Regions from separate parts of the Homo sapiens genome. Here regions 2 and 3 are each linked to region 1. Evidence: fine-mapped expression QTL. A gene starts in region 1. Each other region holds a variant in brackets. All regions are shown on one strand. Distances are between the middles of the regions.

Region 1 (10,442 bases):
ATACCTGCAATTTTTAGAAAAAATACCATTACCCAAGGCCACCCATCCAACCAGACACAACCCTGGCCTGTTTTGAAAATCCATTCTATTCATAATATACAAAATGTACCTGGGAATTCCATATTTCAACTTGTCAATTTAAAGTGATCCCTTACAGTTAAGATTCCAAGAGGCTTAAAAAAAAAGTCACCACACAAGATAAGATTTTCTTCAATATTTTATTTATATAGAAATACTTAAAAAATGAAGTAGCACCATTACTTAAGTTTTACCTTTATTATGTAGAACTTTAAATGTCAGAAAAATAAAACTCTTGATACAATTTCAAATCTTGTCTCAGCAAATATAATATTAGTATTTGACCATGAGGTTAAAGGCCCTTTATCATAAAATAAAATATACTTTGTTTTTTAAACTTTGCTCAGTAAAGTACATTTAAGCTCAAGTAACATCACCTACATATACATAAACAAGTGGTAAACAAATGTATTAAAATAGAAATACTAAAACTAGAGTGGTGCAACAGAATTTTTGTAACTTGCACTGAATTCTATTTATACAAATGTTAGAAAGCATCAACAGTTCTTTTTGACATGTTTATACATTTCCGTTTTTGTAATAATATAGAATAAAATATGCTTTATATCACTGAATAGAAAATATGCTGGGTGAAGCAGATCTAGAAGATTTGTCTGAACCTATAAAATCTCCATCCCAACAGAATACTGTTCAAAACATTACACATTTTATGGTTGTAATTCCGTCACAATTGTGTGATTATTAAAATAATACAGTGTTCTTTGCCATAAGGCCATACTAAAATAAAAAGATTTAACCCAGCTACAAAAAAGTTCACTGAACTTAAATTAAAATACTTGTAAACATCTTTGCAATATGAAATATAATTTTTCAAGTCAAAAAAGAATAAAATACTTCAATCTGTATTAATGCAATTTCTCTTTAAAACTTTTAAACGTTTTTAATATATAAGAGATATGTTACAGTTTCTTTAACTTTAATAAAGCTGCAGTATCCTGGTTTCACAGGAACTCCTGGCCCTTCCACGAACATTCAAAAAGGATCCACTGTGTTCTATAATAAGTATCATAGGAACCCACCCACAAAGGGGAACACACTAAACAGTCCACACATCCCATAGCACTACTATCATCTTCATCATAATTATTACTGTTCATTTTTTCCTACTTTAAGAAAATGGAAAACTTGTGGGGTTTTCTTCTTTTGGAAGCTTCCTATTAAGTACAGTGTAAAAACTATCATTACTAGAATGTCGCCGTTCCTATTATTTATAGAGCATGCATTTCAGGTGTTCAGGTTTCCCAGGCTACAGTACTCTTGATGCAGATATCCTGGCAAATTCCTTTACTTAAAAATTAAATTTTAAAAATGAGCGGATACTACAGCTTTCCAAGCTCCTCTCGGATCTCAGAGTGTTGGTGGGGCCGGGAAGGAGAAGGGAGAGGGGGGGCACCCAGGGAGGCAGGCGAGCGCTGGGGAAAGAGGGTGGGGAGGGGTTCCCCCTTCCCCCAGCACGGTGCGCACTAGCAGCGCCCGCTGCCTTTAAGAAAAGATGCGGATGGCCTGAGTGACCGCGGTGTGGCAGACCGGGCACTCGGGCTCGCTCTTCTCACAGATGCGATTGGCGCACTCCATGCAGAAGAGGTTGTGGCCACAGGGCACCAGCGCGGCAATCACTTCGCTCTCGAAGCACACGGAGCAGTCGCGGCTGCCTTTACGCCGAAGCCCGGAGGAAGAGGATGAAGAGCTGGAGGAGGAGCTGGACGAAGAGGAGGAGCCCGACGTGTCCGACGGCTGCAAGCCAGGCAGCTGTGCCCCCAGCCCGTTGGCATAAGCGGCGTAGGCCAGGCCTCCTCCACCCGGGTCGCTGCGCACCCGGCGAGCCAGGTGGTGCTCTCCCGCCCCCGGGGCCATGTGCAAGGGTGGAGACAGGCGCGGGCAGCTGGTGCCAGGGTGCAGCCGGCGGTGCACCAATAGCCCCAGGTTGGCGTTGGAGGGCGCACTGGCGCCACCCCCGGGGAAGACCACGGAGGAGGAAGAAGCAGACGAAGATGCAGAAGAAGAGCAGGAAGAAGATACCGGAGCTGCAGGTCCGCCTCCCGGGGACCGCTCGAACTGGGCCCAGATAAGTGGTGCCCCAGGTGGGGGAGCGGGAGCCGGGTCAAAAGTGGGCTGCAGCTCGGGGCAGCCGTCGGGGGATGGCACTGAGGCTTCTCCCCCCGCTGTGTAGGTGTACCCATTGCCGTTATTGTTATTGTTTCCGTTGTGCGCAAAGCTCAGGGCGGGGCTAGGGGGGCTGTAGTCCGCCAGGCGCTGGGTAGCCGCTGCGCTGCTGCTGGTCCCGCCGCCGAAATAAGAGTCTGTGGAAGCACTGCCAAGCGAGCTGGAGCTGTCGTTGCGGTAGCTAGAGAAAGGCTTGCGGCCGGGGGTGGGCGTGATGCTGGGGGTGGGCTTGCTCCAGAGGCTGCCTGGGCCGGACCCGCCGGACCCATGATGCAGATCGAAGCCCACATCGGTGCCGTTGGCGTGGAAGTCGTTCTCGTCTGTGAGCTCAATGATGCCGCCGGTACGCAGAGCAATGTGCGCCTCAATCTCCTCTCGAGCGCGATCCACGTTCTCTGGCATGCCGGTCACCTCGAACACCGGCTCCTTATCCCGGCTGGGCGTCACGATGTACGTGTGCGTCTGCTGCTGGATGCGCTTGATTGTGGCGCCTTTGGGCCCCACCACGAGCCCCACCACGCGGTAGGGTACCCGCACTTGGATGGTGGTCTGCCCGGGCAGGTTGGGCGGCCCAGGCACCGCGCCGTTGAGTGCCGTGTTCTTATTCCGGGAGGCGCGGATCATGGAGAAGTGCTCGGCAGCAGAGATGATCTCCCTCCGAGCCATGGCCACATCCTCCTTCCTGCCCGTCACAACAAAGACAGGCTCCTCCCCGCGAACTGGGGTCTTGATGTAAGTATTGGTCTTCGCCCGCAGCGCTTTGATTTTACAACCTACGAACCAGGGTGCGGAGGAGGGAGTGGGAGAGAGAGACAGACACGCCCATTATCCTGGGGTAACCGCGGGGACCGGGGACAGCCCGCGTCCAGGACAGCGAGACGGCAGGACAAGAGATGGGCGGAAAGGGGGCGTCTCCCTCACTGACCTCGGGCCGCGCCACGGGCTGGGCAGCGGATCCCACCCGCGAGGCGCTCGAGGAACAGCCCATTGGCTGCCTGGCCCTCCCCCAGTGACTGCAGTCGTCCCGAACCAAACCCGAGAATCCCAGAAAAGTCATCTGGGGAGATGCCGCTGGGATCCAGCTGGGCGCGCCGTCAGCTCTGAAGACACGGGGAAGGGGCTCGGGGAAGGCAGCTGAAGTCGCGATGCCTCAGCGCTGGTCGACTGGGGGTAGGGGGTGGGGTGTGAGTCCCGGGACCCATTGTTCCTCCTCTGGGCTCCATTCCGCTTTGCAGAAATCCAGAATCCTCCTCCCATCCTATGCTCACTCCTCCTCCTTCCTCCTCCCAAAGGACTGATCAAAGGCCCCCTCCCCCAAGCATCTTACATTTAAATTGTCTTTCTGGAGGTGGGCTGGTTGGGGGGCGTTAGGGGAGAAGGCAGTGATTTTAGCAGAAGAAAGTGCATCCCGCCAGGGCAGCGGCGCGGCTCCGGGAGACAGCCTGCCTGCACTTTCTTTGTCTGGGGCGCCGGCCCATCGCGCGGCTCTTCCTCTCTCCCCAAGGCACCCCACGCCGCGGATCCCGATACTGAACACGCCTTCCCCTCGAGGCAGTGGCCTGAGACCCTACACCACCCCCACCCACCTCCCCATCCCTCCTCGACCTACCTTGCCGCCCCACGATCTCGGCGACATGCTCAGAACTGGGTACTGGCACGCACTCGGTCATGTTCACGCTCTTCTTGCGCGGCTCGCTGTCGTACAGAGAGGCGCCCTCGTCACTGTCCAGCCCCAGCAGGGAGAGCTGGTCGAGCGCGAGCTGCAGGGCTCTTTGGTCATCCAGGGTCTCTCCCCCTCCGCTGCTGCCGCCGCCGCCGCCGCCGCTGCCGTTGCGCTCCAGGTCTGCGAACAGCGAGCTGGGCATCGCTCGGCCGTGCGCGCCGCGCCCCCGCCGGCCCTCGGCTCGGCGGCGAGAAGCTGCGGCCACAAAGGCAGCCGGGAAGCGGGTGGTCAGGGGCGGGGAGGCCGGTCGCCTGCTGAGGGCTCCGTTGCTTCTTCCTCGGTGCTGGGAGGAGTGGGTCGCTCCGTGCGGTCCGCACCGGGCAGTGGCTGCAGGAGCCCCCACCTGGGTCCCCACCCCAGACCTGCTGGCGGGTGGGGTGGGGGCAGAGCTCTAGCGGTGGCCGCGCGTGCCCCCCGAGTGCCCGGCTGGCTGGCCGCAATGCCGAGCGAAAAGCGAGCAGGCGAGCGACAGAAGCGTTTCTTTAAGGAGCCCCTCCCCGGCTCCTCCACTCCCTCCCTCCCGCCCGCCCGCCCGCCCTCACTCAGCGCTTTTTCCTCCTCTCCTCCCCGCCTCTTGACTGAGCCTCTGCAGCCAGACGACTCCGGAGGGGGACGAGGGAGGCGCAACGTCACAGGCGGGAGCTGACACCACAATGCTACTGACACTATCGCTGGGGGAGGCGATTGGCGCGCGCCAGGCCGGGGGCGGGAGGAGGCCGCGGGTTGAGCGAGCGGAGAGAGAGCGCCACCCCCCACCCCCGCGCTCGCCGCAGCCCGCCCCGTCCTCCTCCCGGCCGCGCCCCTCCCCCGCCGCCGCTAACGCCTCTCTTTGTTGTCTAATGCGGGACTGGCAGGCTCGGGACACTTGGATGTACCTATCAGCCGAGGACAATCATTGTCCCTAAGTCTCCTCCCTCGCCTGACTGAGAAAAGAAAACGCGCCCAACTCTGATGCCTGGAGCCGGGCTCTAAAAGAGCGGTCCTCAGGAAGTCCCGTTAGTGGCTCCAAATAAACCATCCGTGGAGCCAAAGCTTCCTCTGTGAGAAGAGTCTGTAGTCCGCCCAAAAGGGCGACCCGAGCCCTCCGACACGGAAAACGGGACTCCAGGTCTTGGGGCGCACGGGCAGAGTGACTCCCGGCGCGGGTTGTCCACCTGCGCGGGAGCGCACGAGACACAAAAGCACACGCCCGCCCACACTGGCAACCGCGCGCGCGCGCGCCCGCGCCTGCATTTCTGTCTCCTTGGGCAGCACTTCGCCCAACTGGCCCTGAAACTGAGGATGGGAAAGCTAAAAGCTGGCTGCCGCGCGAGCTCGGCCCGCCCGGCCGCTGGCGACCTCTGGAATGCATGGCACCAGTGTCCAGCACACGCCCGGCGCCCGGGCCGAGACCCTGCGGGTTCTGACACGCGCACGAGCGCCGCGCCGCCACCGCGGGGACGCAGGCCACAGCGCCAGCGGGCGGCGCGGGCGTGCGCGCCCGCTGTTCCCATCCCTCCCCTCCGTGCCCCGCGGCCGAGCATGCGCAGTGCGCGCGAGGAGCGGGCGGGCCCTTTAAGGCGGGCGCTGCGGAGCGCGCGCCGGCCCCGCCCGCGGCCCCGCCCCGACGGGAGGTGAGCGCTCCCTGCCCGGCCGCTCTTTGTGCGCTTCTCGGGGTGGGGGTGGCGGCAGAGGGAGGTTGCGACGGCACTTGCCGGCGAGGACGGCGAGCTGCGCCCCCTCCCGGATCTCCCAGGGACCGTCTCCGAGTGCGAGAGAGAAGGAAGGAGGATTTGAGGGGCGGGCCGGGGCGGTGCGCGCTGGTCCTCTCCGCGCGCATCCCCCTCCGCCGCCCACTAGGGCGGACGCCCCTTCGGGCCCCGCGCGCTCTGCTGTCCTTTGTTCCGGGAGCCGCCGGGCTCGCCGCGCCCTTTGCGTCCCGCTGCGGATCGTTCCGCAGAGCGGCTGGGCCCGCGGTTCATAGAGTCGCCCAAGATCCTCACAGAGGGACGTCTTCCCAAAACAATGAGGCCATGCGGCCGCAGCCGCACACGGGCTGACTGGGGAGATCTCGTGGTGCCGCGGGGCGGTCCCGGGGCTCGAAGGCAGAGGCTCCCCTAGGTGTGCCCTGCCTGACCCCGGCTACAGGAACGAGCGCTGTGGGCCTCGGTTTCTCACCCGTAAAATGAAGAAAATAATCCCCGCCTTTACCACCTCGTGGGTCGTTCGGAAGATTAAATGCGACAGTGGATGGGCGCGCGCTTACAAATCAGTAGACAGTTCCGCAAGCGCCTTTACTTTTGAGAACGCGGTGGTGCAGCTCCCTTCACCGCTTGCTTACCTGGAGCTGTCTTGGGAAAGAGGTGCTGATTATTTCCTTGGGGAAATGGGTTTAGAAGCCACTTACAGTGGTTATTTCCTCAGGATGTTTACGTCAGCTTCCCGGAGCCTGGTGTGTGTTTTTCTTAAAAAGGAATGTTCGATGGGAGGAGGCAGGTGGGAGGATGGTGCCGAGTCCTCCGTGAAAACCACCACTTAGAGCTCCAGTAGGAAATTACTGTATTCTTTTGACCCGGTTTATGGACTTGGAATCCAACTAACTTGGGAATGAGGGTTCTTGCCGAGATGGAGGGTTTTGAGTAAGGGGTCCTGGCTGGGGAGAGCCAGAGATGAGGCCCAGCCTCCCGCGCTCACGCAAGGCCTGTAAACAGAAAGCAGACTGGAAAGGCGCTTGGAGCATTTCCATCTTTTTAACACAAAGGGCTAGTTTCTCGCCTCTTAGCTCTGTTTCTTTGAAATTTCATAGCCTTCGGATTGGGCCTGCTGAGGTTTCTTTTTTTTTTCCAAGTAGAAAATATGGTGACAGTAAAGTTGTTCCTCCGCTGATAAGGAGCTGTGCACGGATAATGGGGTGTAGGGAGAGGTTGCTTCTGCTAGGGAGCTTGGCCGCTAATAGTTTCAGACCTGCCATAACTCCTTCTCCTTGCATCTACAGCGATAAGAATTCAGATGGATTAATTCTGAAACGTGTTTAAACTTAGAGGATTGGATATTTCAGAGGAGTCCCTGGGTGGCTGGGTCATTACCCGGAAGGTGAATGCAACATTTCTCCAAGGTGACATGTTTAATGTCATTCTTCCCTGCTGGATCCTGAAGGCAGGACTTGTACTTGGCTGTAACTGCCAATGTTCAATGAAATCATACATCTTCACCCACATGAAGGATAAGCTGAACCCCTTACCATAGGAATTCATGGAAAGCTGCCGATCCTGAGGTGCCCATGTTCATGTAGCCCAGGTCACCCTCCACAGAGAGGAACACTTGAGTAAAACCTATACAGAGATCCGCATGCTTTTCTGAAGACACCCACAAAAGCGAAGGCACTCTCAAGAGCATGGGAGGGTGGTGAGAGTGATAGAAGCAGTTACTATGTCTGACAGATCTAGTTTCCAGCCCCAGCTGTTCTTCAGTGTTGGCTGTCAAAAGAGGACGGCATCCAGCTTCCCACCTACCTCATAGGGTTGCTTTAGCGAGACGGATAATGATAGCAAAAGCTAACTCGTAAATTCCCAGGTACTCAGCAAATGTAGTTGGCGCTTTACTCACAGCTACTCCTTGCCTTCTCTATTTGTATACCTTACTGACTGGTCAGGATATTTTCCGACACTTGACTGCTGTTGTAAAAGTAACAATCCAGAAATTTTAATTCTCAGTTAGTGGCTTTAATAAGCCAAGATATTGTAAAACTTGCAAAGTCCGGTTCTGTTTTTCAATAGATAATACATCCTAACCCCATAGTTTCTGGATAGACTTTCCCAGGCTCCTTTAGGACCCCAGAGCTTAATTACTTTTCCTGATGCAGAACACATTCCCTAAGGACTTCTCGATGTGGCCATAATATTTTTTATTAGCACAGGAGAGAAGCTTGCAGAATGAGGTCTGGCAGTATAATAGAGAATTTCAGTTGTCATAAAATGAGAAAAAGTAAAGTTATCACACAAAAACAAGATTAATGATGAGGCAACCTTGTTTTGTTTCCAGATGTCTCAAAACTATTTTGTGCACATCTTGCTTACTTTTGCAAATTAAATAGCTTGCAAAAGAAACGGAAATCTTCCTGTGAAAACAAACACATGCTCAGTCAACTCATTTAAGATTATTGAGCACCTCCATACTGTATTATAGGCACAGAGAGAAGTATCGATTATACTGAACTGAAATGAACAAAGGTGGCAGAGGGGCAGGATAATGTCTTTTCCTTGAATACTAGTGATGTCCAAACCCAGTCACACAGAGAGATAAGTGCCCAGATAGTAGTGAGTCGGCTTAGGGTCCTAGAAGGGCTTCCCAGAGGAGGGGATACCTGAGTTGTGCTTCCAGTGAATGTGGTGTGAGAATGAATTGAGACTGGAGCCTAGCACAGTGCATAGCATCTAGCAGGAACTCCTAAATGCTTATTAAATGAGTGAGTGAGCCAAGCTGCAGCATCTTGAAGGTGTAACTTTAGGTATGTACAGGAATCGCTCAGTCTCTGGGAAGCAGCTCAAATGACACCAGCCACAATGACATGATTTTGAATAAAATTAGTAATCACAGGTGACCCTTATTAAGCACTTATTATGTGCCAATGTGCCAGGAAGTTTACAAAATGCTTTACAATACAGTATCTTGTTTAATCTTTCTAACTACTCAGAGGCAAGCACTTTTATTATCCCCACTTTACAGATGAAAATAAGTCACTTACCCAAATAAAGGCAGATTTGCCTCCAAGCAGATGAAATGAAGCTACAGGGCTCCTCACTTAACACAGACCCTTCCAAGGCCCTGGAAGAGGTCCTAGCAATATACTTACAAGATCACATGAAATCACTAAAATTTTCACAGGTAAATGTTTTATTATTTTCTTTAAGGAGAACCCCTAAAATGATACAGGCTTCGCGCCCCACAAATCTTAGATCCATTATTGTGCCCAGGGTCACACAGCTGGTATGTGGTACCCCGAGCCTGTGATCTTAACCAACGTTAAGTTCCTTCCTGTCTCTGAGCTATGCATTTTCAGCTGGAAGTTGGAAATATTTCCAGTCCTGCTTCTCACACAGGATTATAAGGATCACATGTGTGAGGGGACGTGAAAGCATCTTGATTTTTGATGTTCTCCTGTGTCTTTGTGTGGTTAAAAGTGTGTGTGACATATAACACATGTAACACACACACATTTTTAAAAATATTTTAATAATATAGGAAATGCTATCCTTATGTTGAGTGAAGAAGGAGACAATGTGTGTGTGTGCAGTGTGTATGTATGTGTTACTAAACACTTAGTAAGCATTAGAAACAGTGAATGAGTAGGCTACAAGGAATTGCATCAAAATTTTAACAATGCTTGTTTTCTTTTCCTTGTGATGGAGTCTTGCTCTGTCGCCCAGGCTGGAGTGCAGTGGCGCAATCTCTGCTCACTGCAACCTCGGCCTCCCGGGTTTAAGCAATTCTCCTGGCTCAGCCTCCCAAGTAGCTGGGATTGCAGGCACACGCCACCATGCCCAGCTAATTTTTTTTGTATTTTAGTAGAGATGAGGTTGCACCACGTTGGCCAGGCTGGTCTTGAACTCCTGACCTCAAGTGATGCGCCCGCCTTGGCCTCCCAAAGTGCTGAGATTACAGGCGTGAGCCACCGCACATGGCCAACAATGGTTATTCTTTAAGTAATGAGATCACAATTTTATTTGTATTTTACTTTTCTGTGTGGTTCAAGTTATGAACATACATCTTTATTCGATTAATTTTTAAAGTAATACGTCCTGAGTTTTAAAAATTAAATCATGCTAAAAAGCTTAATAAAATAAAACCACTCCCCAGTCCTGTCCTTGCTGTAAATAGAAGCAGAAAACAAATCTAAAGCTAATCCTAGCACACATTTATATGGGCCCTTACAAGTAGCTTGACTTCTAAAATTAAACATCACTTAGTTAATAATTGGTAATAACCATTTTGCAATATCAGAACAGAGTAAGAAAAATAGAAAGTAATTTTAAAATCTCTCAGAAATCAAGGAGACCGGAAACACAAACTTCAGGAAGAAGGTGCCATTTTTTCTTCCTGAGCAGAGATAAAATAGATCAGTGGAATTCAAATGTTTTTTACAGTTGAATCCTTTGTTTCCCAAAGTCGTAGGCTGAACTCATATCTATAAAACTGATGAAATCCATAGAAGGTTAGAATCGCAGGATGCTAGAGAGTGTGTGGTCCAACACACTCAGCTGACCGCAAGCTGAAGGCCAGAGTAGGAAATGGCTCCCCCCAACGTCAATTGCCCGTTGATATGGAGCCGGGCAGGAAGCCAGAGTGAGACATCCAGTGTGATGTGCTCTGTTGCTTTGTGATTTAAGGAAATCTGGTATTGTCCCTAGTGAACACCTTCCATGTTTCATGCTTTGGCTTTGGGGTAGTATCATGAGTCAGTATTGCTGATATCAAACCT
Region 2 (10,442 bases), 66 kb after region 1:
CCTTCCTTCCTTCGTTCCTTCCTTCCTTCCTTTCCTTCTTGCTTTCTTGCTTTTTTGAGATGGAGTCTTGCTCGGTCACCCAGGCTGGAGTGCAGTGGCGCGATCTCAGTTCACTGCAACTTCCCCCTCCCAGGTTCAAGCAATTCTCGTGCCTCAGCCTCCCCAGCAGCTGAGACCATAGGCACGCACCATCACACCCAGCTAATTTTTGTATTTTTTAGTAGAGAAGGGGTTTCACCATGTTGGCCAGGCTGGTCTCGAACTCCTGACCTCAAATGATCTGCCCGCCTCAGCCTCCCAAAGTGCTGGAATTACAGGCGTGAGCTACCATGCCAGGCCTGTGTCACCCCTTTATTCAGCAGACTACAGTCCTGTGTTTCAATCCCACCTCTGCCACTTTCACTCTATTTGGTCTCAGGCAGGTCACTTAAACTCTCATCTCCCTCCTCTGCAAACATGAGTACCTGCCTCACAGTTCTTTTTTTTTTTTTTTTTTTTTTGAGGTGGAGTCTCGCTATGTCGCCCAGGCTGGAGTGCATGGTACGATCTCAGCTAACTACAACATCCATCTCCCGGGTTTAAGTGATTCTCCTCCCTCAGCCTCCCGAGTAGCTGGGACTACAGGCATGTGCCACCATGCCCGGCTAATTTTTGTATTTTTAGGAGAGACGGGGTTTCACCATGTTGGCCAGGCTGGTCTCAAACTCCTGACCTCAGGTGATCCACCCGCCTTGGCCTCCCAAAGTGCTGGGATTACAGGTGTGAGCCACCGCACCTGGCCCTGCCTCACAGTTCTATCATGAAACAACATACATGAAGTGTATAGCAAGGGCCTAACACATTACAGGGACTTCATAAGTATGAGTTTCCTCTCCCACCCCGTCCTTATTTTTATCCTGTCAACAAATTAGGGCGAAAGCACCTCTGTAGGTCTTCATTTTACGTGATAAGGCCCACCTTTTTGGGTCTTTAACTTCCCTCACATTTTTCTGATAGGGCCAAGTGGCTGTTGCTGGCAGCTGCTTCCAGCTCATGAAGTCAGCCAGGGGCCAGGCAGGGCAGTACGGCAGGGCTCCACCAGAGGGGAGCAGAGAGCTGGGGCTGGGGCTGGGGCTGCGCAGGTGAACCTCAGCGGCAGAAAGGAGGCAGATGTGGCACATGGGCTGGGGGAGATCTCCGGGCTCTATCATTAGAGGCTGAAGGTTTGGGGGTGTGGACTGGTGTCACTCAACTGAGGACCCCAGAGGCAAAGTCTTACATGAGGGTGAGTCTTGAGTTAAACAGGAAGTATTCCAGAGAGTCTAGGAGAAACCTTCTTTAGACAAGGGAATGATCACAATAGCTGCTATTGATTGAACGCTTTGCTCTAGTAAGGATACGATCTTGGGGGATCTTAAGTCAGTATATTTTTATCCAGGGTGATGGCTAGTGCCAAGCCGAGTAGGCCCCAGCCCTAAAGTTCTTCTAGAATGTAGAGAAGACACCCTAGCAGTCAAGGGGATTGCAGCCTAGGGAAGGGAAGGGAAGGGCATTGAGTAAGAGGAGATTCTCCCAGACGGGAAGGAGAAGTAGAAATCCTGCTATTTCCCTTTGATGGACCATGGAAGGGAGAGGGACAGAGGAGGAGAAGCAATGGCTGAGACACAGGCATCGTGGCTTCCTCAGCCAAAGTCCCAGGATGTGGTGGGGTGGGGTGAGGATGTCTTTTTTTTTTTTTTTAAAGACGGAGTCTCGCTCTGTCGCCCAGGCTGGAGTGCAGTGGTGCAATCTCCGATCATTGCAAGCTCCGCCTCCTGGGCTCACGCCATTCTCCTGCCTCAGCCTCCCCAGTAGCTGGGTCTACAGGTGCCCGCCACCAAGCCCGGCTAATTTTTTCGTCTTTTTAATAGAGACAGGGTTTCACCATGTTAGCCAGGATGGTCTCGATCTCCTGACCTCGTGATCCGCCCGCCTCGGCCTCCCAAAGGGTTACGATTACAGGCGTGAGCCACCGCGCCCGGCCTAGGATGTCTTGAGGTGACGCCACCAGTGGAGGGGCTTGTGCATGTCATCTGGGCTGGGACTCTGGGTACAGACCCCCTTGTATGGAGCTGCCATGTTTACACGGAGCAGCCAGAATCAAATGGAGACCCGACCCAGTGGGGTGGAGAGGTCTGGGTTAGAGCTCCACAGCTTTCCCTTGGCATGGAAAGGGCCAGAAGAGCCAGTGGAAGGGACCTGCCATGCTAAGGGGCGAGGTGACCCCATGATGAAGGCCACAGAGTGTTTAACTTAGTAAGGGTCAGGTGGAGGGTGCATCTGAAGCTCAGAAGGCCGAGCAGAGCAGTGAGGAGCTGGGATGGGGCAAGTCGGCAAGGGAAGAAGACAAATTTCAGGTTCATCTCCATACTCCGGGAGAGAAAAGCCAGAAGTAGCCCATGGACCAGGCGTCTCTGCCTCTACCTCCTGCACCTTCTCCAGTTCCAGCCACTCCCGTTCCCCCTTCACTGCAGCCACACCAGACTCCAGCCCTCAGTGCTGCCTTGCTGCCTTTGGCCACAGGCCTCCGCACCTCCCTTCTCTCCTCCTGTCACACTCAGCTTCCTAGATCTTCTTGGCTTGGTCATTTTCCTCTCTCTCATACTCTCTTTTATAATGCTACTCATTTTCTTTGGTTGTAACTTCTGCATTTATCTTTGCAGTTCTTTAACACCTGCTTCCTTGATAAGATTTTAAGCTCCACAGGGGCAGGGGCTGTGCCTGTTTTCTCTTATCATTGTGTGCCCAGCCCCCAGCACAGACACTGGCAAGCTGTAGATCCTCAATCAGTATTTGTTGAATGACTGGATAAATAAGTAGCGGAATAAATGAATGGATGAATGATCTGTGACAGTTTCTTTGCAGGGCAACGAATTCTCCATTCATTTTCAGATATGCGTCTAGCACCGAAGGTTGGGGAGGCCGGAACAGTAATGGTGCAGGCTCCAGCCCTCACAGAAGAGAGCTGGTCTTTCCCCATGTCATGCTTGTTCTGCCTTTACCTCAAAGTTAGGGCAGCATTTACTTTTTCAGATAAAGAAACAGGATTTCCAGGGTCTTTGAGTTTTGTTTTTACTTTTCATTATGAACATTTTCAGCATACAGGAAAAGTAAGGAGAACCGTATAATATCCTTTGGAGAGGATGTATTTTAAAATAAATTATCGGCTTGGTGAGGTGGCTTCCGCCTGTAATCCCAGCACTTTTGAGGCTGAGGTGGGTAGATTACTTGAGGTCAGAAGTTCGAGACCAGCTTGGCCAACATGGTGAAGTCCCATCTCTACAAAATTACAAAAAAATTAGCCGGGCTTGGTGGTGCACGCCTGTAATCCCAGCTACTTGGGAGGCTGAGACAGGAGAATTGCTTGCACCTGGGAGGCAGAGGCTGCAGTGAGCCAAGATCACGCCACCGCACTCCAGCCTGGGCAACAGAGCAGGACTCCAACTCAAAATAAATAAATAAATAAATAAAGTAAATTATCATTATCATGACAATTTACCCCCAAATACTTCAATTTGTACCTCTAAAAAATAAGCATACTTCCCTACTCCACTAAAATACTGTTATCACTCCTAACAAAATTAACTGCAATTTTCTTTTTTTTTCTTTTTTTTCTTTTTTTTTTGTGACAGAGTCTCACTCTGTCACCCAGGCTGAAGTGCAGTGGTGCGATCTCGTCTCACTGCAACCTCTGCCTCCTGGGTTCAAGCAATTCTCCTGTCTCAGCCTCCTGAGAAGCCAGGACTACAGGCACGTGCCACCACGTCCAGCTAATTTTTTTTATTTTTAGTAGAGACGGGGTTTCTACTAAACCGTTGTTCCAGGCTGGTCTGGAACTTCTGACCTCAGGTGACCCGCCTGCCTCAGCCTCCCAAAGTGCTGGGGTTACAGGCGTGAGCCACCGCGCCCAGTCAATTTTCTTAATATTATCTATCTTGGCTTGTTTGTGCTGCTATAACAAAATACCTGAGACTAGGTAATTTATGAAGAACAAACATTTATTTTCTCATAGCTCTGGAGGCTGGGAAGTCCAAGATCAAGGTGCCAGCAGGTTTGTGTCTGGTGAGGGCTGCTGTCTGCTTCCAAGTCCTCTGGAGTGGTGGAACGCTGCATCCTAACACAGCAGAAGGCTGAAGGGCAAAAGGGATAAACTCTCTCCATCAGACTCCTTTATAGGGGCACCTACTCCCATTCATGACTCAACCATCTCCTAAAGGCCACATCTCTTACTACTGTTGCATTGGGGATTATGTTTCAACATCAATTTTAGGGGAGACAAAAACATTCAAACCATAGTATCATCTAATACTCAGGCCCTATTCACATTTCCCCAGTGGTGTCTAAAATGTCTTCTCCAGTTGGTTTCCTGGATGCAGGATCCAATCAACATTCTCACCCAGAGCAGCGCATTTTAAAAACCATCTCAAATGTCTTAATTCAGACCATATGTTTCCCAATGTAGAACACAGAGAGAACCAGACGTCTCCCATTTACATTTCAGCAGCCTCAGTCCTTTTTCAAAACTGCCTTGTGCGGTGCGGTGAGCAGGTCCAGGAATGAACGGCCACAAAGCCTAGATATGCAGTGACGCACGGCTCTGCAGACCCTCCAGGCGCCCAAGGCAGCCACACAGAGCAGGCGACATGCAGCCACACTGCAGAGGAGCAGAGAGATGAGCCACAAAGAAAGTATTTTCTCCTTCTACATTTCCGTCCGGGAGACCTCACCACTATTCTAGATGGCGCTGCCC[T/C]CAAGCAGGGCCCAAGAGGCAACAGTGTGAGTCCAACCCTTGGAAAGCCATCCACTTGAGGGATAAAGTCCCTTCTCCATCCAGCTTTTAGTCTTCAGGCAGCTCTGCAGGCTCAGCCCTGCCCGGCCTTCTTGCTGGAGGCCTGGGGCCAGGCAGAGAGGGCTGCAGACACAGGCAGGTGCCACCATAATGTTCTGGTGTCGGGGTTGGAGCTGTTCATGACTAGCTGTGCCAGGAAAGTTTTTTGTTTTTTAACTTGATGGAAATGTTGTGGTTTTCACATTGTCTTGGGACAAACAGGAGCTTGGTTTACAGTCCCGAAGTATGTATCTGCTGAATTGTCCTTTAGTTGATTCTCTCGGGTTTCCAAGTTATGCCTTTTCCCCTTGGGCAGCCGAGGGAGCACAGCTTCTCCACTCAGCCCCTCTTTGGTTTGCTTGCCTCCACTGTCAGGAAATTCCACCTTAAGTACCCTAACCCTCTCCCTGTGATGATGGGGTTTGGACAGACTGATGGGCATAGGACTCTTCCCAGTCGCTCCCTGTGCTCCAGAAAAGCTGAAGGCAGACTGGAAACATATTAAATACCTGCAGGAGCCCCACTCACCAGGTGAGCACAGAGGCGGCCATTCACAAGGCCACGATTCCACTTCTGCCTTGGGCCGTGGTTACCATTAGGCACAGCCCCCCAGCACCTCCATGCCCTTCAGGACAGAGCACCAGGAAGCCTGTGGGAATCAAACAGGATGGGAAAGCCTCTCTGCCCCCTCCTCCCACCCCATTTAGATCCAGATACTTCCTCGTCACAGGGGGCCTGTCCTGTGCATTGCAGGATGTTTAGTAGCTCCTCAGACTGTACCCACTGGATGCCAGTGTATTTCCAGACATTGCCAAATGTCCCTGGGGGACAAAATCATCACCAGCTGAGTGCTCCTGTTCTGAGTCTTAAACAAAGGACCCATTTGTAAAGCCAGGAAAGTTCCAGGACCACTCACACCAGCTGAGTGGAGCAGTGTGGGGAGAACCTCAAGCCAGGCATTCTCAGTGTCTTGTTCTGAGGAAGGGAAATGCAGAGCAGCTGCCAGGCCAGGTCTGTCTTTAGCCCTCTGCTTCCCTCTATTCACATAGGGGAAGCTGTACCAGAGCCCTGGCTTATGATCTGAAGGAAACAATACTGTCACTGAGATAGGATTGATGGGGCATTTTCCTCCTGGAAGTGCTGATCCATGAATCATTTCCAAGCAAACCACCCATGGCATCCCCATTCCCTCTACTCTCTCCTCCTCCCTTCTTTCTTATATCCTACCACCCCCAGCTGACATCTAGCCTAGGCCTCTAACTCTGTCCACCCCTGGGCTTGACCCCACACTGGACAGCTTCTCTGGCCACAGCTAGAATAGCCATGAGTTGCACCTGCGGGCCCTCCCACCACACTTACTGCTCTGTCACCTCCTTCTCATTTCCCCAGAGGGGCTGCAGTGGGGTGAGAGCCCTGCATTAGAAAGCCAAAGGGCCTGGGTCTGAATCTGAACTTTACCAATCACCGGGCAGGAAATTCAAGTCATGCATGTAAACCCCTTAGCACAGTGCCCGGCACACAGAGCAGTTCTTACGTGTCAGAATGGGTTTCTCTCCCTCCTCCTTCCCTCTTCATCTATCTGGGATAGTGAGGCAGCCCCTTCCTTAAGGGGCACAGGAAGTACCCGCAGGATTGTGAACCTGGTTATGTCTGCAAATGCCACCCCAAGGCCACTTTCCTCCTCTCCCCAACCATTGCAGGATCCACAGCAGGCTGCATTAGGGGTTCCAGATGCAGCCAAGGACGGAGAGCCTACTCAGGAGGAGGAAGGAGTGAGAATAAAAGGACGTGGGTCTGAGGGGACCAGGGAAAAGACACAGAAGTCAAGAGAAGCGGTTCTTCTGATCAACCCGCTGGAGGAGAAGGGAGATGGTGCTGGTGGCCTTGAGAATCAAGGGCTGAGAACCCAGGCTTGGTAAGTGTGAGCACCTGAGGAGGAGAAGCCCCTGGAATAGGGGGAGGGGCCACAACACTCCAAGCCTCCCCCATGGACTCCATATCAGGGGTTAGACTGGATGACTCAAAATGGACCATTTTATACACTCTTCCCATCTTCTGTGGGTACAAGAATGGCCTTGGAGGAAGCCCTGTTGGGGCTTAGACCATATTCCCTATCCCTTCCAGCATGATGCTGGTGGGTAATACCCTGGGTATCAGAAATGGGGAGCAGTTGATTATTATTCTCACTGAGGTGAAAGTGCAGGATCTCCCAGAGGAGGTCAACATTCTCCAAAGATTAGCCCTCCTTTTGTGCCTTCTTCTTGCCTCTCCCAGTCCCTCCTGCCACCAAACCTGCTTTCCACCTCACTGAGAACATCCCGCCTTCTTGGTTCTCTGGCTTCTCCGGCCCCTCATGGCCTTATGCCTTCCTCGCTACCTGGGCCTCAACAAGCAGCCTAGACTCACTTGCCACCTCCCGCCCCACACCCTGGCTTCTATGACCACCCTGTCATCTCTGGCCTCACCCTCAGCTCCACCTGCCAAGTGCAACTTATTTAACCTCTCTGTATCTAGTTTCCTCAAATGTAAGGTGAGCACCCACGTCAGACAATTGTCAAGAGGCATTAGAATGATTGGCATATAGTAAATTATTAATTATTTTGGAGTATTGTTAAATGCTTGGTAGAGTGCCTAACGCCTAAGGGCTCAATGCATGGCAGCTGCTATTATTGTGTGAGTTCTCTCATTTGCCAAGAGCTAGAGCAGCCAGGTCTTTTGGAGCCAGCCTTCTGTGTGGACACGCAACCCATGGGGAAGACTCTCCTAAGATGACCCGAGAGAATTACAGACTTCTTGTGTTACAGCAAGTAATGCGTTTTCTGGTGTCTTCAACCCCTTCACCTGGCTGCCTCGACCATGGGTGCAGCCAAAATCTTAGAGAACCAAATTAAAAACAGAGTGAATTAAAGGAGGAATAATTACTTTCTACCCCAATTTTAAAAGTTCAACTTTATAGATAAAGATAAGGAGAGAAAAACCAATAGTCAAATAATCAATAATGCTTGCCCCTCTGTGTCTGTGTGTTTTCCAGGTGAGAACAATAATTTGTAATTATAGAAAGATTTGATCAAACATTTTCCTATTTGGTGAAAGATGGCAGCCCCAACATCATAACCTATGGGGAGGCAAAGTCTGAGGCCAAGCTGCATATGGCTGAGGCCTCACCTGGACCACTCTGGATTCCAGCATCCATGCCACCTGCCATGGTTCATGACATCCATTCCTTGGAACATTGGGGAGTAGATTCCAATTGACCAGTGTTAGGATCGGGCAACTGAGAGGCTCACAAGGGCCCTCTTTGATACGAGAACAGAAATGATGAGACATCCCAGGTCTCTCTGATGCTAGCTGTGTGAGCAAGTTTATAAACCAATCTGTGCTTTGGTTTTCCCAGCTATCAGAAGAGGTTATCTGGGAGTTACGGTGACATTTAACAGAGGCAAGCCATGTAAAAAATAAAGTGCCTAGAATGGTATAAGGGCACAGGGTAGGAGCTCAAAAACAATATTTATTATCAGTGTTACTAGTCTTATCATAAAAGAGCTGAATCGTAATGTGGCAGAGTAAATACACTTTGTGTGAGACAGGCACATATCTCAGAAAGACTCTATAATATTAGGTAACATCAGCGTGCTCTTTTCATCTCTATCCCCGCCAAAACTGTGTGAGGGTATCGGCTCTCTAAGATCTATATTTCTTGTACATGAGTAATATTAAAATCCAGAGGGAAGGTAACCAAGGGTCACTACGTTTTATTTTTATTTTTTAGATTTTTTTGAGATGGAGTTTAACTCTTGTTGCCCAGGCCCAAGTGCAATGGTGCAATCTCAGCTCACTGCAACCTCTGCCTCCTGGGTTCAAGCGATTCTCCTGCCTCAGCCTCCCGAGTAGCTGGGATTACAGGCACCCACCACTACGCCCGGCTAATTTTCTATTTCCAAGATGGGGTTTTACCATGTTGGCCAGGCTGGTCTCGAACTCCTGACCTCAAGTGATCTGCCTGCCTCCGCCTCCCAAAGTGTTGGGATTACAGGTGTGAGCCACCGTGCCTGGCTGGGTCTCTACATTTAATAAGAGTGTGTGTGTGTGTGTGTGTGTGTGTGTGTGTGTGTGTATACATATTTTCCCAAAAGTGGTAAGATTTGGAAAGTGTACCATTTGTGTAAGTTGAACTTTGCCAGGCCACACTGTCATGGGGAAACAGAAGGAATCCCATCCCTTTGCCTCCTACCCATCTGCTATTGCATGACCTTTAGTTCTTGGAAAGGGGGCCATGATTTTTGCTCAGTTCTCTCACAGTATCTTAGAGGTGAGTCCCTCAAGGTATAAAAATGGAGCTGTGTTCTCTAGAGCACACGGTGTGTTGAGACCAAGCTGTGCTCTGGGCAGGCATGGAAGAGGTGGCCTCTACTCTCTCTTGGGCTGCCCTTTGTATTAGAGGAAGGAAACTTCACTGTCTCATCTCCCAGGGGCTCAGAGATTTCATAAGACAGCTTTCCAGTGTGTGCTTGCAGCCTGCAACGAGTTCATGGAAGGTTGGGCCAGGAGACAGATCTGAAAGGCAAATCCCAGGTGAGCTCATGAGAATCAGCAAGAGAGATGGCCGGCCTGTCCCATTTCTGACTTGTTAGGTCTGAGGTGGGGCTGAGACTATGCCTTTCGGACCAACTGTCAGGTTATGCTGAGGCTGCTGATCAGGAGACTCCAGCATCTTTGGAGAACCCCTGGCCTAGGACTTTATTATTGCATCAAAGTGTCTGCCTAAGTTCTCTTTCTAGAGAAGACCTTGGGATCTGGGGCACATGTATGCAAGTCACCTTAATTACCCTCATTCTTGCAGATGCAGAGAGCTTGGTGAGGAGTCAGCAGCCAACTAAACTGGCTGCTTGAATCCTACAGCTGGTGACAGTGGAACTGGATATGGTGTGCATGTATGTGATTCTCAGAAACCAGCAAAGGAGACGGTGCATTCCAGGGAGACGCTGAGGGTGTCACCCAATAGGGATCTACAGCTGTTGATTTTCAGATGTGCTCCACAGACCCCCTGGGGGTTCCATGGACGCCACCAGGAGCAGTCGACTACTTTTGGGCCCAGGTTTGAGGGTCGTGAAACAGGGCAATTCCACTTTGACAACTTTTACACTGGAACATCCATGTTAGGTTTCTTCTGGAGAAAGCACTTTGGCTAAATCAGTCAGAATGGCCCGGAACTAGGTAGCCTCCATGTGTGCCTATTTCAGGAAAGAGCAGACATCACTCAGCTTTCCATATGGAAGGGGGTCGAGATGGCTTAAGCTGACACAGGGAAACGAGGAGGACAGGATCTTGTCTGTGCAGCCAGGCCTCCCGGGAACCTAGGGGAAGAAGAGTCACCAGGCGCCAGTGTTGGGAGTGCAGCATGGCCAAGTTGCTGGGAGGCGAAAGTGAAACGTGTTTAGGGTTAAAGGAGGCCAGAGGACTCAGCAGCAGAAGCTGAGCACACGGCTTCAGTCTAGTGACTTCACAACTCTCTCCACCTCCGCCTCCCCCGGGGGTGCTTCTCTTTTCTCCCCCTTTCTCTCTTCCAACTGGCTAATTATCACTAGACTTCCCCATT
Region 3 (10,442 bases), 450 kb before region 1:
GAATTCTTTCTGCTTCGCCATAAAGGAAAACTCCAAGTCTGCCTGGGGCCATTTCTCCAAGCCCCAATCTGGTTTTTATTCTATGCATACCTACTCATATCTAACCATATCTCAGGGCACACCATGAAGTAGCAGGACTCTTGCCCTGGCTTCATCCATTCCCCCTTACCTTGCCAAATCTCAGTTTCCTTCCCACTGTTAGAATGAAATGCCATCCCTTCATCTTGTTCACAGCTGAATGCAAGGTACCCACTCCTGCTCTGCTATTCTTTTTATACTGCTTCTTTAATTTTCTCTCCCCAAATCTTATCTCTTTACATTATTAACCAATTTTATCTGCCCCTTCACCTAGTATATCTTCACCCAAATCCTGATCACCAGACATCTAGAAGTCCATGAAGATAACCTATGAATAGAACCAACCATTTCTTCCATCTTCATTGCAGTTAATCCTATATTAGCAATTTTTTAATTTCTTCTTTAAAATTTTAATTACATTTTAATAATTTACTTACAGAAAAATTAAAGTAGAAAACAATATTAAGAGAAAATACTGGATTATGACACAATATTATGTTATAATATGAAACTTCTAAACAAAATTTTGATGGATTCCATAAGCCTCAAAAAGTCATTTCTCTATGTACAAAAGAATAATCACTTTAAGCGTCATCCTGAGAGGTGAAGCCAGCTGGACTTCTGAGTCCGGTGGGGTCTTGAAGAACTTTTCTGTCTTAGAAGAGGTTTGTAAAATGCACCAATCAGTGCTCTGTAAAAACACACCAATCAGTGCTCTGTGGCTAGCTAGAGGTTTGTAAAATGGACCAATCAGCACTCTGTAAAATGGACCAATTAGCACTCTGTAAAATAGACCAATCAACACTCTGTAAAATGGACCAATCAGCAGAACATGGGCGGGGTCAAATAAGGGAATAAAAGCTGGCCACCCCGCAGCCAACAGGGGCAACCCAGTCAGATCCCTTTGCATGCTGCGGAAGCTTTCTTCTTTTGCTCTTCACAATAAATCTTGCTGTTGTTCACTCTTTGGGTCTGTGCCACCTTTAAGAGCTGTAACACTCACCATGAAGGTCCCTGGCTCCATTCTTGAAGTCAGCAACCACAAACCCACTGGAAGGAGCCAACTGTGGACCTAATCCCATGATGTTTCTAATCAAGAAAGAGAGAAACAGTTCTCAAATTCTCAAGTGCAGCAAATATGATTCTACTGGATTTCTAAAGAGTTTACTTCTAGGGGGCTGGGCACAGTGGCTCACGCCTGTAATCGCAGCACTTTGGGAGGCCGAGGTGGGCAGATCACAAAGTCAGGAGATTGATACCATCCTGGCTAACACGGTGAAACCCCCTCTCTACTAAAAATACCAAAAAAAAAAAAAAAATTAGCCAGGCATGGTGGCAGGTGCCTGTAGTCACAGCCACTTCGGAAGCTGAGGCAGGAGAATGGCCTGAACCCAGGAGGTGGAGCTTGCAGTGAGTCAAGAACTACTGTACTCCAGCCTGGGCAACAGAGCAAGACTCTGCCTCAAAAAAAAAAAAAAAAGTTTACTTCTAGGGATTACCTGTGCATTAGGATTTTCCAGAGAAACAGAAACAACAGGATACGTATACATAGAAAGAGATTTATTATAAGGAGTTGCTTCATGTGATGATGGAGGCTGGCAAGTCCAAAGTCTGAAGGATGGGTTTGGAGGGTGGAGACCAAGGAAGAGCTGATGTTACAGTTGAGACTCAAAGCCCATCTGCAGGCAGAATCCCCTCTTGCTCAGGGAAGGTCAGTCTTTCATTCTAGTTGAGCCTTTGACTGATTGGATGAGGCCAAGCCATATTATGGAGGACAACCTGCTTTACTCAGATTCCCCCAATTTAAATATAAATTTCATCTGAAAACGTAATTGCAGAAACATACAGAATAATGTTTGACCAAATATTGGCACTGTGGCCCAGCCACGTTGACATATAAAATTAACCATCACAGCCTGATTATTGGAAATAACCTAAATACTCATGAGTGGCATTAGATGGGCAAATAATAATACCTGGTAGAATATTATGTAGCTACTAAAAATAAAAAATAAATGTTACTGAAAACTGCCTATGAAATAAGATTTTATGAGGAAAAGCAGACTAGAAATGTGCATATTTACAAAGATAGCCCATAGCCTGCCAAAAACAAATGTGCATGCCAACAGTGAGTAGAAGAAAGTCTAGGAAAAAATTGGGAGTAGTGGGGATGAGGGTATAAAGTTTCTAAAATTTATAATAAAATATTTCTGCAATTATGATACAAACTGATGATTCAATCATAAGTTTATAATTTCTGTTATGCCCTATAAAATTATTATTAAGCAGTCACTTGAAAAATATTTACAGGCTCTAAGTATTAGGTTGAAATCAATAAAACTTCCATACCTAAATTGGCGAAGGATGTTCCAAACTTTCTTATTTCTCTTTAAAAATAAGTGCCAAATCAAAGAGATTTGATGGATTTATTTGAATATGTTCTTTTGATAAGGGTCTTAGTGATCCCAGGGATAAAAAGAACAAAGGATAGGCATTCACACAGCTGGCTATCTGCTTTTAGAGAAATCCCAAGCCTGATAATTATATAAGACTCGAAAAGAAATCTTCTGAAGTTCTCCTCTCGCCTTATCTTTCCATTCTCTCATAAAACTGTCTAGTTAGAGAAAGTGGCAAAGTATTCACTTCTGAGTACAAGGAGTAACATAGATTCCAAACAAAACTCATTTGCAAGAATAAAAACTCCATTTTAAGAGAGCAGGGTATTCTCACTTATTTTCCCTATTGACAGGTATTATGGTCTGAATTTGCGTGTTCCCCAACCCAGCCAAACTCACAGGTTGAAATCGTTATTCTCAATGTGATCGTATTAGGAGGTGGGGCCTTTGAGAGGTGATTAATATCATGAGGGTGAAGCCCTCATGCATGTGATTAGTGCCATATAAAAGAGGCCCCAGAGAGCTCCTTCTCACCTTCCACCATGTGGGGATGCAGCAAGAAGACAGCCATCTATCAACCAGGAAAAGGGCCCTCACCAAACCCAAAATCTACCAGTGCCTTGATCTTGGACTTGCCAGTCTCTAGAACTGTGAGAAATAAATGTTTGCTGTTTAAGCCACTCGGTATATGGTATTTTTGCTATGGCAGCCCAAACAGTCTGAGATAGCAGGGATAGAGGCTTGTACGAGTCAGGGTTGCAACAGGACCAGACAGCTGAAGTTTATTAAAGACAGAATGTGGGGAGAGAACCAACAGCGAATGTTGGGGTACCCAGAAAGTAACAAGAGCAGGAAGCTGTTGTTGTCTGAGGCCTAAAGGAGCACAAGGTTACCTTGGGGTTTGGGTCATGGTATCAAAGTCCACTGAGAGCTGGAGCTGAGGAGAAGGAACTCAGGCAAAAGCTGTAGTCCCTGAAAGACACAACTGCTCTCAGTATCTCTGTGCCTAAGTTGGGAGCAAGTGGGGAAGAAATAACTGCGACTCCTCTCTGCTCTAGCTCTGCGTTTCTCTCTGCTCTAGCTCTGCGTTTCTCTCTGCTCTAGCTCTGCGTTTCTCTCTGCTCTAGCTCTGCGTTTCTCTCTGCTCTAGCTCTGCGTTTCTCTCTGCTCTACCTCTGCGTTTCTCTCTGCTCTAGCTCTGCGTTTCTCTCTGCTCTAGCTCTGCGTTGTCTCTTGATGGTGCCTCCCATTAGTCGATCCCATGAGAAGCTGGTGAATACGGGTACCTAGATGATACAGGCCATTAGGGGGAGTCTCTTAAGTCCCAGAGCAAGGCAGAGAATGGCAGAGGAAGGGAGAGAAGAGCTCTCATCTCATGTGGGTAGGGGTAGGAGGCCAAATAGAAAATAATCAGCACAGTGTGTTCTTCGCTGAGATAGGTGGAAGAGGTGAAAAGTCTCTTCAGGGTTTTGCTTGACTTTTGTTAGGAAATGATAGTTCTCTCCATAATATAATATGAGCACCAACCAAGAGGCTTGTGTCCTCAATTGTGTGAAGGTCGGCTGGAGTTTAACGAAGAGCTTGGGTCCTCATCATCCTTCACTGAAATACCTACAGGGTATGCTGACCTGGAGGTGATAATTGTATTTCAGAGCCTGGTACTTAACACCTATCAGGGTCAAAACAGAATCAGCAGCATCTCACCCAAATGGAGAAGAGCGAAGGTCCCTGGGGCAGTGTATCATGGTCAGCATTTGTAATGGGTCACATTTTCCACGAAAGTAAAGCCCTGTAAGTTTTTATTATGCCCAAGCACAGCTTTTATGTTTTATCTTTGCCACCTCCATGAGAAAAGGGAGAAACTAATATCCCTTGGTTGGTCAAACCCATGGTGAGGGTAGATGCTCATGGTTCAGAAGCTCCACCTGTGCCATAACACAACTCATACAACTAAGGGAGGATGCTATTTCCACTTGTGATGTGTACAACCCCAAAGATGACAAAAGCACTGATATTTAAAAAAATTTCTGATGTTCAATGTCTTTATAAGTGTTAGTAATAATCATGGCCCAGTTCAGGCCGTGCTCTAAGAGAATGCCATATTATCTCTGAATGGAGACAGATTTGCAGTGGAAAATGATATTCATATCTCTCTTGGTTAGATATATGGCTCATCTACTACAGAGCTCTCCCAGAAAGAACTGTGTCTGAGGGCTATCAAATCCTTACCAGTATGAAATAAAAATCCCTGAGTCTTCTTGCCAGCAACTGTTTGTCAGGAGATGTTCTCAAGGCTCATAGCTTGCCATCTCTGCCAGTCGCTCCCCACTCTCCTTCATAAGGCATTTCTTATTGTGCATCCTGCTTCTGTAGTATCTTTTGGCTTGTCTTTGATTACAAGTATTGTGATTAAAAATTTTCTTTGGGGCCAGGCACGGTGGCTCACGCCTGTAATCCCAGCACTTTGGGAGGCTGAGGCGGGAGAGTCACCTGAGGTCAGGAGTTCAAGACCAGCCTGGCCAACATGGTGAAACCCCATCTCTACTAAAAATACAAAAATTAGCTGGGCATGGTGCCAGGCGCCTGTAATCCCAGCTACTCAGGAGGCTGAAGCAGCCAGGGTTCACTTGAACCCAGGAGGCAGAGGTTGCAGTGAGCTGAGATCATGCCATTGCACTCCAGCCTGGGCGACAAGAGTGGACTCCGTCTCAAAAAAAAGAAATTTTCTTTGGAATCAGTCATCATTCAAGTCTGCGAACTGGACCTCTGCTTGTTCACCAACTCTGTGCTTCATTTTCTGTTCAATTCACTTCCAATTGAAACCAACTTTTTTTTTAACCTATCACCCTGAGCTTTGTATCAAATATCTGCCCAAATATCTTCTTTTTTTCTTTCCTTTCCCTTCAGACAACTTATCTAATCTTTGTGTAAAAATAGTGTTAGATTTACTACTGTTCCCTCCATGGCTTGATATCATTACTACATCTTACTTTCCTGTCCATTCTTACTCTATTTTCATTTCTTGAGGAAAGTTTCACCAGTATTTCCTGTCTAATTAACTGCTTGAGGTCTAAGTATGCACTGTATCTCTCTCTCTCTTTCTTTTAATTTTTATTTTATTTTTGAGACAGGGTCTCACTCTGTCACCCAGGCTGGAGTGCAGTGGAGTGATCATGGCTCACTGCTTCCTTGACCTGCTGGATTCAAGCAATCCTCCCACCTCAGTCTCCCGAGTAGCTCTGACCACAGGCATGTGCCACCACACCCAGCTAATTTTTGTATTTTTTATAGAGATGGGGTTTCACCGTGTTGCCCAAGCTGATCTCGAACTCCTGAGCTCAAGCCATCTGCTCCCCTTGGCCTCCCACAGTGTTAGGATTACAAGTGTGAGCCACCACACCCAGCCTTTCTCTCCCTTTTACTCTCTCTTTACTTGTAGCCATCTCTCAACTATAGATTTGCAGCTTTTCCTGATGATTATGTTTGTCTAGCAAGCCATGTTACACCACTTGGCTATATTGCCCTCATTTGAATAACAGCCTACAGCCTGTCACTCCCTTCAATTTCAGCCATTATTCCAGTCATGCCGGAGCATGAGATTTATTTGCCCATTGCTAACATTTCCTGTACTTAGAGGGCATGTACCATACAGTAAAATTCTAGAAAAAGGTCACTTCTTTGGCCAAGAGTGAAACCTGGTCTTGCATTTAGCACTGTCTCTAAACAACAATTATAGCTCCCTGATCCTGGCCTTGCTCTCAGGGGTACACAGCCAATTTGTGTGGGTTTTCCATGGAGAGAGAAGATTCCAGGGGAGAAAATCCCTGGAGCTTGCACGTCGTTTTTCATCTAATTATGAGCATGTTACTGAGCCTTTCTTGCCTTGTTCTTTGACACTATTTCTGAGTTTTCTAAATTCTTCCTTCCGTTTTCCAATCTGTCAGTATTAAAATGAATTTCCTTATATTTTTAGATTTTCAGTTATGAGAACAACAACTCATGCATAGTAGCTTCTG[G/C]TTTTCAAAGACTGAAGCCCACCTGCCTGTTCCGGCGTAGATAGATCTAATCTAAAGATCTTTTTGTTGTCCAAAGATCTGTCTCCTGAAGCTGTCTTTTTTTTTTTTTTTTTTTTTTGTGCATTTGGGATGAGCACAGATATCAAGACAGGAAGACCATGGCCCTGGTATATTACCATCTTGTCTCCAGAGAAATGTAGAAGGAAATAGGTTTCAATTCACTGCTTTCCAGTCTGCCACGTGCAGCCTTATCCCTCAGAGGAGTGAGTCTCTCAATATCTGGGTCACTGGCCCAGATTTTTCTGTCTCTGTGCTGACTGACCACAAGACATCTCTAGATGTCAGGATTGTTTGGTATGCAAATTTAAGTAGCCCTCCTTGTGAGGCTTACTGTGCACTTTGTGCATTAGAATGGCATGTTCAATGAAAAAGGAGTGAATTCACCCTTACAGGTGGGGAAGATGCCAGAAGGGAGGTGTGTCTCACCTGTCAGATGCAACTTCATAAATGCTGTTTGCTGGGATAAGCTCTGTGCATGTTCCTGAGAATTCTTTTTCTAAGATCAAACTTTTACATGTAACTTGAAAACACGTGTGGTATGTTTGAATGTGCAGAGTGACAAAACCCAGATGTACAATATTCTTTATTTCTCTCTGTAATTGAACTCTATTCAATTATTTCAGCTCTCATGTCCTCAGTATTGCTGATACCAGAAAAGTTAGCTAACTCAAGGTCTGAGATTTAGTCTCTTGGGTAACCATTCAGTCATTTGAAACATTCTCAAAATTCAGCTCCTCTCTCATCTTCCTTTCTCCCTGAGGAAGGCCTAAATTCTGGGGTTGAGGGTGAGGAAGAAAAAGGAATCTTGACACCGAAGTAAATGGGGTGTCCAGTCTACAATCCTTCTCCTTTCAGATTGGACTCCATGAAGTGTTACTCATTGGAAATAGTCTCTGGCAAATTGTTTTGACATACGTTGTTTTGGTTTTTTCATTTTGTTTTGTTTTGAGATGCAGTTTCACTCTTGTCGCCAAGGCTGGTGTGCAATGGCATGGTCTCAGCCCACTGCAACCTCCGCCTCCGGGGTTCAAGTGATTCTCCTGCCTCAGGGACTTGGAATCCCTGCATAGCTGGGATTACAGGCACCCACGACCATGCCCAGCTAATTTTTGTATTTTCACTATAGATGGGGTTTCACCATGTTGGCCAGGCTGGTCCCGAACTCCTGACCTCATGTGATTCACCCACCTCGGCCTCCCAAAGTGCTGGGATTACAGGCTTGCCCAGACACATTGTTTTTTTGGTTTTGTTTTGTTTTTTAATAGATTTTATTTTTTGGAGTGGTTTTAGGTTCACAGCAAAATTAGGCAGAAAGTTCTGGGAACTCTTATATCATCACTTCCCCACACACACGCACAACCTCCCCAGCTATCAACATCTGGCACCACAATGGTACATTGTTATAATTGATGAACCTACATTGACACATCCTCATCACCCAACATCCACAGGTTATATTAGGGCTCACTCTTGGTATTACACATTCTATGGGTTTTGACAAATTGCAATGACGTGCAACCACCTAGTATCATACAGAGTAGCCTCATTGTCATAAAATTCCCTTCTGCTCCACTTATTTATTCCTCCTGCCCACAAACTCGCAGAAACCAGTGGTCTTCTTTATGGTATCTATAATGTTGCCTTTTCCAGAATGTCATAGACTTGGAATCATACAATATGTGGCTTTCTCAGATTGGCTTTTTTCACTTAGTGATGGGCATTTAAGTTTCCTCTGTTTCTTTGCATGGATGGATAGCTCATTTCTTTTTAGCACTGAATAATATTTCATCGTGTGGATGTACCACAGTTTATTTATTCATTCACCTACTGAAGCGCATGTTTTTGACTTCCAAGTTTTGGCAGTTGTGAATAAAGCTGCTATCAACATCTGTGTGCAGATTTTTGTGTGAACATAAGTTTTCAGCTCCTTTGGGTAAATACCAAGGGGCATGATTGCTAGATCATATGGCAGGAGTATGTTTAGTTTTGTAAGAAACCACCAAACTGTCTTCCAAAGGGACTGTACCATTTTGCTTTCCCATCAGCAGTAAATGAGAGTTCCCATTGCTCTACTGCCTCAACTTGTGGTGTTATCAGTGCTCTGTATGTTGGCCACTCTAACAGCTGTGTAATGGTATCTCATTTTTGTTTCAATTTGCAATTTTCTAATGACATATGATGTTGAGCATGTTTTCATAGTTTATTTACTTCTACATATCTTCTTTGGTGAGTTGTCTGTTCAAGGCTTTTGCCCATTTTTAATTGGGTTATTTATCTTCTTATTGCTGAGTTTTAAGCATACTTTGTATATTTCAGATAATATCCTTTATCAGATAATGTATTCTGCAAATATTCTATCCCAGTCTGTGGCTTATCTTCTCATCCCCTTGGCATTGTCTTTTACAGAGTAGAAGTTTTAAAAATTTTAATGAAGTCCAGCTTATTAATTATTTCTTTTATGGATTGTGCCTTTGGTGTCCTATCTAAAATGTCATCACCAGACCTAGAGTTACCTAGATTTTCTCTTATGTTATTTTCTAGAAGCTTTATAGTTTTGTGTTTTACATTCAGGTCTATGATCCATTTTGAGTTAATTTTTATGAGGGGTGTAAGGTCAGTCTGGGTTCGTGTTTTTGCGTGTGGGTGTCCAGTAGTTCCAGCATCATTTGTTGGAAACACTCTCTTTTCTGCATTGTGATGCCTTTGTTCCTCTGTCAAAGATAAATTATGTTTCTATGGGTCTAATTGCTGATCTCCTTCCTGTTCCCTTGAACTATTTATCTGTAACATTCATTTTTGATGTGCACCATTCTTCTATGGGCTCTGAGAGCCACCTGCATACACAATGTCTCCTTGCCTTAAGCCCTACCTCCATGGGTGCTGTGATTCAGTCCTGAGTGTTTAGGACTCTGCAAGTGCCCCACTGCTCTGAGCACCTCATCTAGTCATTGCTACTCTGTTCCTCTGGTTTTACAAAGGATGGCGGGCCTCTAAGAAAGGTTCACAGAAGCCACTCCAAGAAGCAAAACGTAAATCACCTTTGCTCTCAGGTTCTCCTTACAACCCTTTGGAATTTTTTGCCAAACTCTTCTGTGAGGCAGCATGTCCTTCTCCTGCCAGAATGTTGAATTTTTATTTCCTTTTGGGTAGAAATTAAATCTTTTAACAGCATGCATTCTCTTCTAAACTATTGAGGGTTTTTTTTTAATAGAAAATTTATGCCTTCCTTCTTTAGAGTTCTTGGTCTGTTTAGTCTCAAAAGACTCTCTTTCTCTCTCAAAAACAAATAATCAAACAAAACTAAAGACTTATATTCTTCAATTGAAAATGTTGGCTTTAAAAATCTATTATTTAAACGAGTCTAACAAATTCATTCAGCTACTCCATTCATGCCTGTTGTCTTTATTCTAGGGCCTGGGCTCTGTTCTTCTACCCTGAGACTAGTTCATCTAGTAAGTTGTCTCGGCTCCTTGACTAGTGGGGAAAATAAAATGGTATTAAAATGCATAAGAAAAAAAAGTTCAAAATATTGTGGGTACACACATAAACATACATATATATTTCAAACAGAAAAATAGATAATCTTATGAATTTAAATAAATAAAACACTATAGACACATTGGTACATTCCTCACTAACCTAATTTAGGGGCATAAATTAGTTTTACGTAGTGAAGACAATAGTGTACTAGAAGATTCTACCTTTGCTTATACCACTAACCAGTAGTATAACTGTAAGCCAGTTCTTATTTCAGTTTTTTTATCAATCAAATATAATATTTAACTAAATATTTAAATATTTAACGGCTGTTAATGAATGGTAGGGCCGTTGGTTATTTATCTTTTCCCTTCTTGTCTGCATTGTCCAAAATTTTTAGTGGATACAAAATATT

Evidence for each region. PIP is the estimated chance that this variant, and not a neighbour inherited with it, causes the effect.
Region 2: its variant is fine-mapped to the expression of MEX3B in tibial artery (GTEx, PIP above 0.99).
Region 3: its variant is fine-mapped to the expression of MEX3B in whole blood (INTERVAL, PIP 0.94).

What each region holds. Positions count from the first base shown.
Region 1 is chr15:82,041,579-82,052,020 of GRCh38, forward strand. It overlaps MEX3B (mex-3 RNA binding family member B), which reads right to left and starts at 4,440. Exons shown (of 2, transcript NM_032246.6): 1 at 3,872-4,440; 2 at 200-3,035. The coding sequence starts at 4,127. The coding sequence ends at 1,582. RefSeq lists silencers at 4,220-4,519, 5,370-5,689 and an enhancer at 4,743-5,689.
Region 2 is chr15:82,107,596-82,118,037 of GRCh38, forward strand. No RefSeq gene overlaps it. Among named protein-coding and RNA genes, the nearest start is that of LINC01583, 24 kb to the left of the region's middle. RefSeq lists a silencer at 1,080-1,159. The variant T/C (reference allele first, on the strand shown) is at 4,769.
Region 3 is chr15:81,589,875-81,600,316 of GRCh38, forward strand. No RefSeq gene overlaps it. Among named protein-coding and RNA genes, the nearest start is that of TMC3, 220 kb to the left of the region's middle. The variant G/C (reference allele first, on the strand shown) is at 6,491.